Homo sapiens: one gene and its partner. The protein of the gene in region 2 purifies or fractionates together with the protein of the main gene of each other region. This does not show direct contact. Each region holds a gene or a part of one and is shown on either strand. Other genes may lie near its edges.

Region 1 (4,843 bases), on a different chromosome or scaffold from region 2:
TTATGAGATTAAAATACTGACACTAAAATTTCTTCAAGATTCCCAGCTGATTCCTATAAGCATCCAGGGGTGAGGGCCACTGGTAACACAAAGGTTAAAAGAGGAGAGAGGAGGCAAAAAGACCATCAGAAAGTGTTATTTGTGATTACCAAGTTCTATATTAAAGCCTCACATTTTCCATTTAAACTACACTCTTAAACACAGTACCCTCTACTGGTCAGGAAGGGTTATCTATTATTCCTAGGTTTAAGGTACAGAAGAAATCTCCAACTTCCTTAATTAAGGAGAATATATGTAGAAGCAATTAGTGAATCTTTATTATTTCTACATTTTCTTATTATTTAAGTGTAAAGTGGGCTGGAGAACACTGTATTAGCAAAGACGATTCTAAACTTAATCTCAATAGGTAAGAGCAAGATATCTATTTTAAAAATGTGTAACGGGCCAGGTGCAGTGGCTCATGCCTGTAATCCCAGCACTTTGGGGAGGCCAAGGCAGGAGGATTACTAGAGGCCAGGAGTTCAAGACCAGTCTGGGCAATATATAGCGAAACTCCATTTCTATAAAAAAATAAAAAATTAGCCAGGTGTGGAGATGCACCCCTGTACTCCCAGCTACTTGGGAGGCTGAGGTGGGAGGATTGCTTGAGCCTGGGAAGTCTCAGCTGCAATGAACCATGATCTCGCCACTGTACTCCAGCCTGAGCAACAAAAGAAATTTTTTAAGTGTACTTGACTTTTCTCAAGGTTTGTCAACTTTAGCAACTACTGACATTTTGAACCAAATGATCTTGGTTGCAGAGTGCAAACTGTATGTAGATGGTTTTAGAATGTTCATAAGTAAGTTTTTTAAAGACATAGAATGCTACTGTACAAATATAAATTGTGAGTTTTAAATTCATTTCCCTTTAGTGTCTTCAACTAGTTACAAGACCATAAATTGATGCTGATGTTCCGTGCATTTTAGGATCTTTAGCTGTATTCCTGGCTTCTACCCACTAGATGCCAGTAGCAGCCCAACCCCAAAGTTGTAACTCCAAAAAGTCTCTAGACATTGCCAAATGTTTCAAATCAGTAATTTATCTAATCAAAGATGTTCCTAAGAAACTGATAATCAAAATATACTTTTAATTGTAAAAGATGATCCATTCACTAATGTTCTAAAAATGTAAATTTTTATATATCAACTTCATAAAGAATACCTTACAGTATCTTGTAATATATAAATTAAGAACAAGAAAAAATGAGTTTTACTTTTCTTTAACAGTGTTGCTTGGCAATATATTAATTACATATTAAGTCTATGAAGTAAAAGTTTAACCTACATCTACTGGTTGCTTTAATTTTTCACTTAAAGACCAGACCAAAATCAAAACCTTGGAACTTCTACTTTTCAACCTGAAATAATCAAACAATAACTATAATCCTAAAATAGCACTGACACAGTAAATATTATTCTTATGAGTGTTAATGGACGACACTGATATATCTCATATTGTAATCAATTTGAGAGTTGCCACTGAAATCAATTAAAAATGTTTATTCTGAAAGATGCTACTATAAAGTTTATAGACTCAAATGCTTATAATGCTTAATCAAAACTAAATTTACAAAAAAACCTAGAAACAGGTTGAATTGAAACCTGTAGATCATTTTATAATATTCATGAGCAACAACTTTTTTAAAGACAAAGGCTACTGTTTTAATATAAATTAAGAGCTTTAACATGATCTCCCTTTAGTGCTTTTAATTGTCACATGGCTGTAAACCAAAGACCCCTCCAAATTTTAAATGATCACTGATACTACTTGAGCAGAAATTCTCAGGTGTCAGTACTTTTAATGTTGTGTACATCAAATTACAGTACAAAGATGACTATAAACAAGATGCAGCCCTCGGTTTCCATGAACAGCACACTATTACAGTAAACCAAGTTTATATTCCACCATCAAGTGTGGCTCTCCCATGACTTCGCTTTGTGATGGATCTGAAAGCAAACAAAAACAAACATTTTAAAAGACTCTCAAAAAAGAGATACATTCAATGATTCTGCTTACATAAGAATCCAGAAGAGTCAAAACTAACCTAAAGTTATAGAAAACAAACCAGTGATTGCCTGGGGCTGGGGTGGGGTGACTGACTGAAAAGGGACCAAGGGAACTTTGTGAGGCAATGAAAACATTCTACTCCTCTGTTTAGGAGACCAGGTTCCATGTTAATTAAAACCCACAGAACTGTACACTTAAAAATAGGTGTACTTTATTGTATGTCAATAATATCTCAAAATAGTGGATTTAAAAAGAAAAAACAGATTGACAAAAGTTTTTTTTTCAAAGTTCTTAAGTTTTCTAGTGGCTTCCCACAGGACGGGAAACAATCTCTTAATTCACAAAAATGTTTTATCTGTATTGTCTTCTGACCTGTTGTATCCACACAAACGTAAGAATTCTTAAGAAAGAAAACCTTTAAAAATCATCACTTTTGTGTTTACAGATGAGTCAGACAAAAGCCTTATTTTAACTGTGATTATACACCTAAAAGAACTTTTAAAATTAATACCAAGCATAAGCTTCCTAAAGACAGAGACTTTTTCTTTGTCCTCTACTCAACATAGGACTAGAAACAGAATAAAAACCTAATGAACTAAATCGTAAAATCACTTTGTAAAAATGAATAACCCTGCACATAATAATGGTGGCTACCAAGAGGAACAGTTCAGTACAATGTGGATGTTTCCTCACTGGACCTCCTAAGAGACTGGAGATTAATAAACTGCTGTGTATATAAAAGGCACTCAAAACCTCAACTTAAAAAAAAAAAAGGCAATATTTTTGACTACATAGAAAGACACGCAGAACAGTCTGGAAGGACAGACTAAACCAAACTAAAACAGCCGGTAATTAGGGAACGAGAAAAATGGGATTGAGGGTCACTACAGCAAATCTGAGTTTCAATGGTAATATTTCAAATTTTTGCACAAAGAATATACTCATTTATGTAACTAAACTTTTCTCCACACCCTGCTTTTTAAAGCTTCTTTAATAAAATGCATTTATTAAATAAATCACTTGCACCAAAAGACAGCATATCATGTAAGCAAGGCACTGGTGGAGACGGGTTTTGCATCTGTTGTACCACAAGCTCGCCGTGAGACTCTGAGTGAGGACTGAGCCTCTGTGAGCTTCCATTTACTCATCTTCCAGTTAGGGGATTAGAGTACATGAAAGTCCCCTTCCAGCATTAAGAAAAAGTCTATTTTTGATTCTACTAGTGTCCTTATACGTCCTTCTTAATCTTGTAAAATGTACAGAATTAACTTGCCTAAGTACTTCACTGATAAGCAGGCAAAAAAGTCATCATCTCCAATACTGTCACAGTCTTTACACAGTATTTAGATTAACAAGCTACTCTCTGATTATAGACTTAACACTGTGTTTTGTGTCAAAGGTGATAAGAATGTGATCAACATGACCCTTAACTATGGATCAAGCCCCCTATCAGGTACTGGGAACACAACTGTTAACAAGAAAAAAATCTCCAGCTCTCCTGACACGTATATTTAAGTTGGACAAATAATAAATAAGAAAAATATCACATAAGTGTTATGTAAAGAATTAATATAAGGCAGGGTGACAGAGCGGGGATTACTTTAGATTAGGTAGTTGATATGGTTTGGATGTTTGTCCCCTCCAAATCTCATGTTGGAAATGTGATTCCCGGCCAGGCGCGGTGGCCCACGCTTGTAATCCCAGCACTTTGGAAGGCCGAGGTGGGCAGATCACGAGGTCAGGAGATCGAGACCATCCTGGCTAACACGGTGAAACCCCATCTCTAGTAAAAATACAAAAAATTAGCCAGGCGTGGTGGTGGGCGCCTGTAGTCCCAGCTACTCAGGAGTCTGAGGCAGGAGAATCGCTTGAACCCGGGAGGCAGAGCTTGCAGTGAGCAGAGATCGCGCCACTGCACTCCAGCCTGGGTGACAGAGAGAGAAAAAAAACAAAGCCATGTGATTCCCAGTGCGGAAGGTGGCCCTGTAGGGAGGTAACTGGACCACAGAGTTGAACACTTCATGGATGGTCTAGCACCACCCCCCGGATAAGTGAGTTCTTGTTCTGAGTTCACACAAGTTCTGGTTGTTTAAAGCTGTGTGGCAGCCCCCTCACTCTCTTGCTCCCTCTCGCCATATAATTCACTGGCCCCCCTTTGTCTTCTGCCACGATTGTAAGCTTCCTGAGGCCCTTACCAGAAGCAGATACCAGCACTATGCTTCCTGTACAGCCTGAGGAACCATATGCCAAAATAAATTTTCTTTACAAATTACCCAGCTTCAGGTATTTCTTTATAGCAATGCAAGAACAGACTAACAGTAGTTAACGGAGGACTCTCTGAGTAATATTTAGGTTGGGATCTGAAAAATGAGGGTAAACTATTTGAGGCAGAAAGGAACAGCTAATTCAGGTCCCTAAGGTGAAGCCCTAAGTTAACCGTATATTATGCAATAACAGTTCCCACAAGAAAAAAACTACCCCAAATACAGTGGTCTCACTGTAATCATCTACCAGGTGGATAAAAATCATCTACCTGGCCGGGCGTGATGGCTCACGCCTGTAATCCCAGCACTTTGGGAGGCTGAGGCGGGCAGACTACCGGAGGTCAGGAATTTGAGACCAGCTTGGCCAAGATGGTGAAACCCTGACTCTACTAAAATACAAAATTAGGCAGGTGTGGTCGTGGGCACCTGTAATCCCAGCTACCTGGGAGGCTGAGGCAGGAGAATTGCTTGAACCCAGGAGGTGGAGGTTACAGTAAGCCGAGATCGCGCCACTGCACTCCAGCCTGGGTGA
Region 2 (9,261 bases):
GTTAGTCTAATGGGCTTTCCTTTGTCAGTAGCCCGACCTTTCTCTATGGCTGCCCTTAACATTTTTTCCTTCATTTCAACCTTGGTGAATCTGGCCATTATGTGTCTTGGGGTTCCTCTTCTCCTGGCGTATCTTTGTGGTGTTCTCTGTATTTCCTGAATTTGAATGTTGGCTTGCCTTGCTAAGTTGGGGAAGTTCTCCTGGATAATATCCTGAAGAGTGTTTTCCAACTTTGTTCCATTCTCCCCATCACTTTCAGGTACACCAATCAAACGTAGATTTGGTCTTCACATAAAGACAATTCTTTATACAACAGTGTTAAAAATGGGACTTCTTTTCACATTGTTGTAAATACGAAGCTCACCTGTTGTTTACAATTTTTTAAATTTTGTGTTTTCCAAATGTGCATATTGTACACTTTGGGGGATATGCTTAGTAATGCTATGTGTGATTTTTCTGGAGTTTGATAAGTTTGCTTGCAGTACATTTTCTTTAAAAGAATGGGCAGCTACATGCATACTTCAAAAATATTTTCCTATAAAAAGAAGTTATATAGGTTGTGTTTGCTATCTTAATTTTAGTTGTATTCTTTGATGTTAACATATTTTGTATAATTGTATTTTATAGCTGTATTGAATCGTGTAGTATCAAATATTAGATGTGATTTAATAGTGTTAAATTTAAACCCATTTTTAGTCATTTTTCCAAAACATACTGCCAGATGCAGATGTTCAGTGTAATTTCTTTGCTTGTTCATTTACAGAAAAAGGTGCTCAGTTGTAGAAAGTATTGTACCTTTTAACACCTGATGCATACATCACATGTAACAGGAAAAGCAACAATAAAGTAGCAATCATTAAGAAAAAATACGGCAGAACAAGCTCTATAAGCACAGTCTTATTTTCTTTTGTTATCCAGAATTCTTATGATTCTTAAGCCTCCTAGAAATTGGAAGCTGAATGAAGCAACTCAAGTTTCCTTTATTTTGCACTCGATTACAGCAATTTATAATTTTTTTAAAAAGTTCCTCTGAAGGTATATCTGGATCATGACATTACTGAAGAAGCACCATATCCAGCCACTGCTTTTTTTCATGCAACCAGAGAGCAGAAATAAGGATCAGAAAATACTGAATAGAGTTCAAAGCTCAGAGGTACCAGGTTGCAGCAGAAAACTCCAGGTCTAGTTCTAAAAATGAAAGCTTGCCTTGTTTGAGAAGTTTACAGACTAGGCATATTAGAAGTGTAGTTTGTGATAAAAATAGTCTCATTAATTTCACATCCAGCTCTTTTACTAGTAAGTGTTAATCTGGGAGAAAAATGAGAAGCAACTGGTGACTACTTATATGCAGAATATTTTATTAATTCCAAGGTATTCTGTTAACTTGGTCTTTGCCTTATGATACAGAAGTAGCATTTACAATTTTTTTCAAAAAATACTGTTTGCATATGTTGTTTTGTGATTTAACCTAAATATACAATTTTGTATGAGGTATAATACATCATTATAAAAATGTGAACTTTGAAAATAGTTACAATTATATTGAATTAATTGCTTTTGTAGCTTACAGGCGTTTTTGTACCCCCATTATGAAGGTTTTGCAACTAAATTTATACCTAAAAATCTATTTTCTCCTGGATATATGTTAATATCATTGAAGCAAAAAGCTATGCTTAAATCTGATAAACAAAAGTTTATTTGCATAGAAAAGATGTTAAAGATAATTTTGAAATTAGAAAAACAAATGCTGTAGTGTTTGTTGTTGCTGCTGGCTTGTTTCTTTTTTTGTTTTTTAGCAAAACTCCACTGATGTCTCTTGGCTCCTAAAAACCCACAAGATGAAGTCCAAACACCTAATAGTTTTCTCTTAGTCACTCACGGTCCTCATGTAGTTAAGTCACACTGAACTTCATGCCATTCCCCCAAACACTCCATCCACTTTGTTCACATTGTTGTCTCTGTAATGCCTCTACTCCAGTTTGCCATTTATTCTTCAAAACTAGCTCAAAATGTATTTTTTCCAATGCCCTTTCATGTCTTTCCCAGGAAGAATGTCTCCCCATTTCCATGTCAATTTCTCACATCTGTTTCATCATATTTACATTATAAATATGTCTCCCACTAGTATCCCTCAGCTTTTTATCCTCAGCATCTAAGATGGACCTTGACACATTAGCATATCCTCAATAAAATCTTGAGAACTAAAAATAATAGAAAATAAAGCTTTATCATCAAAAGGCTTGGGGTTAATACAGGAATATTTCACAGGACGTTAAACATACAAACTAAAAGTAGCTGTTTAGAATTATTTGTCAATATTGGAATTGGATGACAAAGAAACAAGGCTTAGAAGTCCAGGGCCAGAAATAGAAAAGTGAGGTTCTGAAGGATAAAATGGGTTACTTAAAAAGGAGATGTAGCTGATGAATGGTAGAAGGGGAAACTTGATTCTTCATCACAAGTCAAATTCTCTTCACATGGCACTCGAGGTTCTCCATGGCTCGGCTCCATCCTGCCTTTTATGCTTTATATTCCACTGTTCACTTTCATGTGTGAAAATACTCTCTATAAACAAAATTCCTTTCTTTCACAAAACACACCCTTCTTTCCTTAGTTTCTATGCCATTGTTTCTAGGATTTCTTTTCCTTTGCTCAAAATTTGGAACAACAGCCACTCTCCTCGTGCGACTTTCCATGACTCTCCACCTGGATTTAAGTTCTGTCTCCCCTGTACCCACCTCTAACTTTACTTAACACCATTATTGTAACAGTAGCTAAAGACAGACTTGGCACCAACCAGGCTGGGTAAGTTTAGAGATTAATGAATGTCAGGGGATAAGTAGGCACAGTAAGGAAGGCAGTGTTCCAAAAGGGAGCAATGGCATTTCAAAGATCAAAGAGAGAGGTCAACAACTCTGGCTGACTCATGCACTCTTGGATTCTCTCCCTTTGAGCAAAGGCTAAGACACGAGTCTCCTCCCAAAAGCGGCGGTGCCCCTCCTTAGTGAGCTTCCAAAGGCAAGAGCGAGGTCTTGCATTATCTTCATCCTTAAGGCTGTCTGGCACCTTCTCAAAGCTGTCCAGGAAGCAGAGGTTGTAATGAATGGTGCTCTTCCAGCCATCCGGAGCTGTCCAGAAAAAGGGGAAATGCTGTCGGGTGAAATTGTAGATCTCCTGCACACTGAGGCCACAGTGGGGGTTGTTTCTTAATGCTAGGGCAATAAGGTGGCTACAATTGAGAGGGGGCCTTTGCCAGGACTTCTCTTGGTTGTTGATTTGCCATAGTTTCTGGCTCTGGTAACATTTCATTTCAGGGGACTGGAGGGAGTTGTCGTCTGGTTCCTCAGCCTCCTCTTCTGTGAGCTCAAAGTCACTGGGGGAATGGATACCCTGCTTCTGTAAAGGAGACTGCTCACTGGAGGAAGATGGCAGAGACTCTACCACTTTGTCCTCTGAGCAGTTAGACCCTTCGTCTTTTTGTGGGGGCTGAGGGAAAGGAGAAATGTTTGTCAGATCCTCTTTTCCACTGGGCTTTGGGGCCTCCTGGCTGCCAAGGGGGCACAGGATATTGGGGTCCACCCACATCCACAGATTGGGTTCACAGGGAGGACCATCTCCATCAGGACTGGGTCTCCTCTTCTGAGGCATTTCTGGGGGCTTCATTACTCCGACTCTGTATTTGGCAAGGATTTGCTCAGCTAAAGAGCACTGGTCTGTGGTACAAGGCAGAAATAACTCATTCCTCATGTCCCAGTCCAGCAGCCCTGGGACCTGGCCATGGAGACTATACCAAAATTCACAGTCTTTTAGTTTTAAGTCCATCTTTACTGGAGAGATAGGTGGAGAGAGACTTCTGAAAGAACAGATATCTAGCAGGCACTTAAAGCTGTCCTTTGGGCATCATTTTTTTATGCAGTGTATCTCATCTAGGGAGCTTATCAGTAGGCCTGCTAGAAGCACTGAAGAAAGAGGCACCAATGTCTCACTGATTAGTGGTCAGACCTGGAGAAACCTCAGCTTTCTGGAACAAGGCTCAAAACATGGAAGTAATAAAAAAGAGCTTTTGAGCAGAAAAACATTTTTAGGTGGAATTCTTGAGCTTTGATTGGAAGCAGAAAGTCACTTCAAGAGGAATTATAAACTGAATTATGTGCAAACTATGGTGACTTGCATAATAGGTGATCATCTGGCACATATTTAAACCCTTGATGAGTTCATTTAAGGAAGGGACAAACATATGTATAGATCACATTATATTTCTGAGTCTTCCTTAATGGTTTTAAAAATCATTTCATTCATCGAGTGCCTTTGGATTTTGGTTAAGTGCTTTCACATAGATGATCTCAACTGATTTTCATCACAGCCCTGCAAGATAACATGGTATTATTATCCTCATGTCACAGACATGGCAACTGAGATATACAGACATGAGTAAGTAGGAGAGCTAGATCCACAGCCCAGATCTTTTATTTTCACTATACGCATTGCCTCTTGATCATACTCAACATACGATATACAACAGGCAGTAATATGTGCAACCTGAGTTTTATAGTAAGATGGTAACTATCAGAACATGGCCTCTATTATTCTCATACTGATACTAGAATCTAACCTTGCTGCCGTTTTCAATCCTTTTCTGGGAAACAGCTGGCTTTCCTCTCTCCAGGTCACCTTCTTAGGAAATGAGTTCTGAACTATACTCTGAACAGTAGGACCAAAATTTAGCCACAGTATGCAAGGTCCTGAAAGCCCCAGAGGTTCTATTTCCAGTAAGTTCACACCCAGGACATTTGTAAGAAAAATAAAATGGCAAGGTTTCCTTTAATTCAGTTTGCACAAAATCCATGTGTAAAGTATGCGATATCATTAAAATCACTACATAGGACTATGTTGCAAACATATCCAGCAAATGTCAATGGGAGCTATTGGAGAGGCACTTTAATCTCCATATTGTTTCCATACTCTGGTTCTCTTCTACTCTAATCTTTCATACAAGTGGCCTGAGTTGTCTTTCTACAGCATAAATACAAAAAACAACACAACAGTTGTACCAACTGTTAATTATTACAGAATGCTGTAAGCACTCTAACTCAAATCTTCAAAATAATCCTATGAAGTAGGTACTCTTATTATTCTTCCTTTACAGAGTAAAAAACATAAGGCACAAAAAAGCCTAAGTCACAGAGCTAGTAAAGGCCAGAGCTGACTTTCAAACATAGGCAACCTGACTGCAGAACACATGCTTTTACTAACTATACCAATCTTCTCTATTTTGGTGTTATAACATAAAATCTTATAACTTAATGCAACATAAAAGTCCCTCCAAAATCTCACCCCTGCTTACCTTTCCAGGGTAACTTAACACCCTAGCTTTCTTGCTTCATACTTCACGTCCAAAAAGTACTGAAATGCTGGGATCTTCACCACACACCCGTTTTTTTCTCATGTCCCTTTGCTCAAAAACATTCGCTTAAAATGGCTTACTACCCATTGCCTTGACTTAGCTAACCTCTACTCATCTTTTAAGACAACAGAAAGCCTTCTCTAATAAAAACGCTGCTTCCATCTCCCCATAGGGAATTAATGGATCTCCTTCCAGTGGGGCACTGATCTTGGAAAAGCAGGAGATTAACTTGAAATATTTAGCTTATTATGCCAACCACGGAGAGCCTGGAAGCATTTTAGTGCTCAGCAGTCTTTTATTCCTTAAATGGGGGCTCTAGTGTTACAGAATTTCTCCTCCATCTTCACCTGGGAGAGTGCTCCAATCCTTAGATATTGGCTAGTAAAACCAAGTTATCACTGTGTATTGTTTCTTTGGGCCTCATTTAGAAACATTCAATATTTACGTATTGAGCATCCACCATGTTCCAAGAAGTATGTAATAGATCTGGCAGATGAGTAAGACACAACCCAAGAGGATATCACAGAGTAATGCGGAAAGACAGAGAAGTAAACAAAAGGTTAAAATACAGTGTGATGAGTATTAGATACTTCAATAGAAGAACATAGAGAGGAACAACTTAACCCAGATAATAGGAATCAAAAGGGATCCCATGGAAGATATTATTTAAGCTTAAAAGACATGTTACCCAGAAGCAGAGATATGGAGAACAGGCTAGCACATGCCAACCAGGTACACATTCAACACAGTATATGTACTATACAAAGCAAAACCCATAAAACTATATGAGTTTTAGAGTAAGATGTTAACCATCAAAAGATGGCCTCCGTTAATCTCAAACACATGTTAGAACCCAATCTTGCTTAAGTGTGCTCCAGGAAAGGAGACAGGGACATTTTGCACATGCTCTGGAAAAGTACTGAAACTCATATTTGTGGGTAGCCTGTTTCCCAGGTCCCAACCTATCCCGAGTGTTGATATAGGCAAAAATGTCAGCGGTTGATGAAACCATATGTTATAAGCAAAAAATGGCACAACAACATAAAAAGTTGGAAAAAGTGGTGGGAACTCATAATGACCTTAGAAATACCTCTTCAGCATGGGCATGCTTATGCTTGCTCTCTTATACACATACACACACACACACACACGCAGTCCCAATGGTATGATTTGGCTCTGTCCCCCACCTAAATCTCATGTTGAATTGTAATCCCCAATGTTGGAGGAAGGACATGGTGGGAGGTGATTGTATAATGGGGATGAATTTCTCCCTTGCTGTTCTCATGATATTGAGTTCTCACAAGATGTTTTTTTGAAAGTGTGTAGCACTTCCCCCTTTGCTCTCTCTCTCTCCTGCTGTCATGTGAAGATGTGCTGGCTTGCCCTTCACCTTCTGCCATAATTGTAAGTTTCCTGAGGCCTCCCCAGCCATGCCTCCTGTACAGCCTGTGGAACTGTGAATCAACTAAACCTCTTTTCTTTATAAGTTATCCAATCTCAGGTAGTTCTTTATAGCAGTGTGAGAACGGACTAATACACCCAACAACAGGAGCAGCAGTAGAAGCAGTGCTGTTACCTGCCTTCAATTTTCAAAAGCATTCCTGTGCCCAGATTTTGGTCCCCACTCAAAGGACTGATAAGGAGGGTAGCTGATACACATTTTTGGGCAGAAAAAAGTCAGCAATATTAATAAAGACTCTTGTTACAATAAAAATTCTTTCAAGAATGTCAGGAGCAGTGTTGAAAGGATGAAAAGTCACCTTAAAGGGGCTCTCATTACCAAATTGTAACTTTTTATTTTACCACATATGCTATGATTAATTGAAACTATTTTAGTCTGTTAAATGCTGTAAGTACATGATGATACTCCTAAAAGTAAAAAAGGTAGTTGTGGGCTGGGTGCAGTGGCTCATGCCTGTAATTCCAGTGCTTTGAGAGGCCAAGGCAGGAGGATTGCTTGGAGCCAAATGTTTGAGACCAGCCTGGGCAACAGAGTGAGACTCTGCCTCTGTAATTTTTTAAAAAATCAGCTGTGCATGATGGCATGCGCCTGTAGTTCTAGCTACTCAGAATCCTGAGGTGCGAAGATTGCTTCAGCCCAAGAGTTCAACGCTGCAGTGAGCTGTGATGGCACCACTACACTCCAGCCTGGTCAGTGGAATAAGACCTTTTCTCTTATAAAAAAAAGAAAAAAAGGTACTTGTAATGAAAAAAAAAAAATGCCATAGGATATTTAAGATTTGTTGCTTTTATATACGAAACTGCTAAATATTCATGGGTACTTTTTTCATTTTAAGTATATGTCTTTTGTAAAGCATAGATATGTACTTGTTTCCATCAATGGGCAATCAGGAAAGAATACAGGAAAAACGATGAGTAAGCTATATGTGGTTCCAGAAAAACAGGTACAATACCAATGGCTGCTGTGTATAGTTGTATAGGTTGCATGCAGCCCAAGGGTGCCTGTGATGGTTAATACTGAATGTCAACTTAATTGGATTGAAGGATGCAAATTATTGATCCTGGGTGTATCTGTGAGGGTGCTGACAAAGGAGATTAACATTTGAGTCAGTGGGCTGGGAAAGGCAGACCCACCCTTAATCTGGGAGGGCACCATCTAATCAGCTGCCAGTGTGGCTAGAATATAAAGCAGGCAGAAAAACATAAAAAGACTAGACTGACCCAATCTTCCAGCCTACATCTTTCTCCCATGCTGGATGCTTCCTGCCCTAGAACATCAGACTCCAAGTTCTTCAGTTTTGGGACTCGGTCTGGCTCTCCTTGCTCCTCAGCTTGCAGATGGCCTATTGTGGGGCTTGTGATAGTGTGAATTAATACTTAGTAAACTCCCCTTTGTGCGTGTGTGTGTGTGTGTGTGTGTGTGTGTGTGTGTGTATATATAGCGAGACAGAGAGGTGGGGAGACAGATAGAGAGCGCTCTGGCATTGGCTAATTAATCATGGTGTTCTAGAAGTGAAATTGATAGGAAGCCTACTGCATTCCTACTTAATTTATATAAGCAGAAAACTTCTAGGTCGAATGGACAAAAGACTAATTTGAATTATGAAAACAGAAAATCACGGCCTCTCAATCAATTTCTAGACTTGAGCCAGTTTACAGACCCGAACCCCTTGAATGAAGAGGAGGCCGAGTCCCCTTGAGGAAGGACCCCATTACACTACTGACAATTTATGCTGTTAATCTTTCTCCCATCCTTCCGCAAGGAGACCTCCGGCCTTTTACCAGGGTAACTGCATTGAAGAAACGGAAATGATCAGACATTTTGGGGACTACTGGAAACTGGCTCTGAGCTGACATTGATTTTGTGGGACCGAAAACGTCATTGTGGTCTTCCAGTTAAAGTAGGGGCTTATGGATGTCAGGTAATTAATGGAGTTTTAGCTCAGGTCCGATTTACAGTGGGTCCAGTGGGTTCCCGGACTCATCCTGTGGTCATTTCCCCAGTGCCAGAGTGTATAATTGGTATACACATACTTAGCAGCTGGCAAAACCCCTACATTGGCTCCCTGACTGGTAGGGTGAGGGGTATTATGGTGGGAAAGGCCAAATGGAAGCCATTAGAGCTGCCTCTACCTAGAAAAATAGTAAACCAAAAACAATATCGCATCCCTGGAGGGATTGTGGACATTAGTGCCACCATCAAGGACTTGAAAGACACAGGAGTGGTGATTCCCACCACATCCCCATTCAACTCTCCCATTTGTTTTGTGCAGAAGACAGATTGATCTTGGAGAGTGACAGTGGATAATAGTAGGCTTAACCAAGCGGTGACTCCAATCGAAGCTGCTGTACCAGACGTGGTTTCATTGGTTGAGCAAATTAACACATCTCCTGGT

What was found.
Region 1: the proteins of FOXR2 (region 2) and POMP purify together in Homo sapiens (affinity purification with mass spectrometry; 3 studies listed by BioGRID and IntAct, with this or other methods). This does not show direct contact.

What each region holds. Positions count from the first base shown.
Region 1 is NC_000013.11:28,675,178-28,680,020, reverse strand, and holds the end of POMP (proteasome maturation protein), read right to left. Parts: intron 1,987-4,843; coding exon 1,919-1,986; 3' UTR 1,062-1,918; downstream 1-1,061. UniProt on the Homo sapiens protein: Molecular chaperone essential for the assembly of standard proteasomes and immunoproteasomes. Degraded after completion of proteasome maturation. Mediates the association of 20S preproteasome with the endoplasmic reticulum.
Region 2 is NC_000023.11:55,618,273-55,627,533, reverse strand, and holds FOXR2 (forkhead box protein R2), read right to left. Parts: upstream 4,135-9,261; 5' UTR 3,823-4,134; coding exon 2,887-3,822; 3' UTR 1,342-2,886; downstream 1-1,341.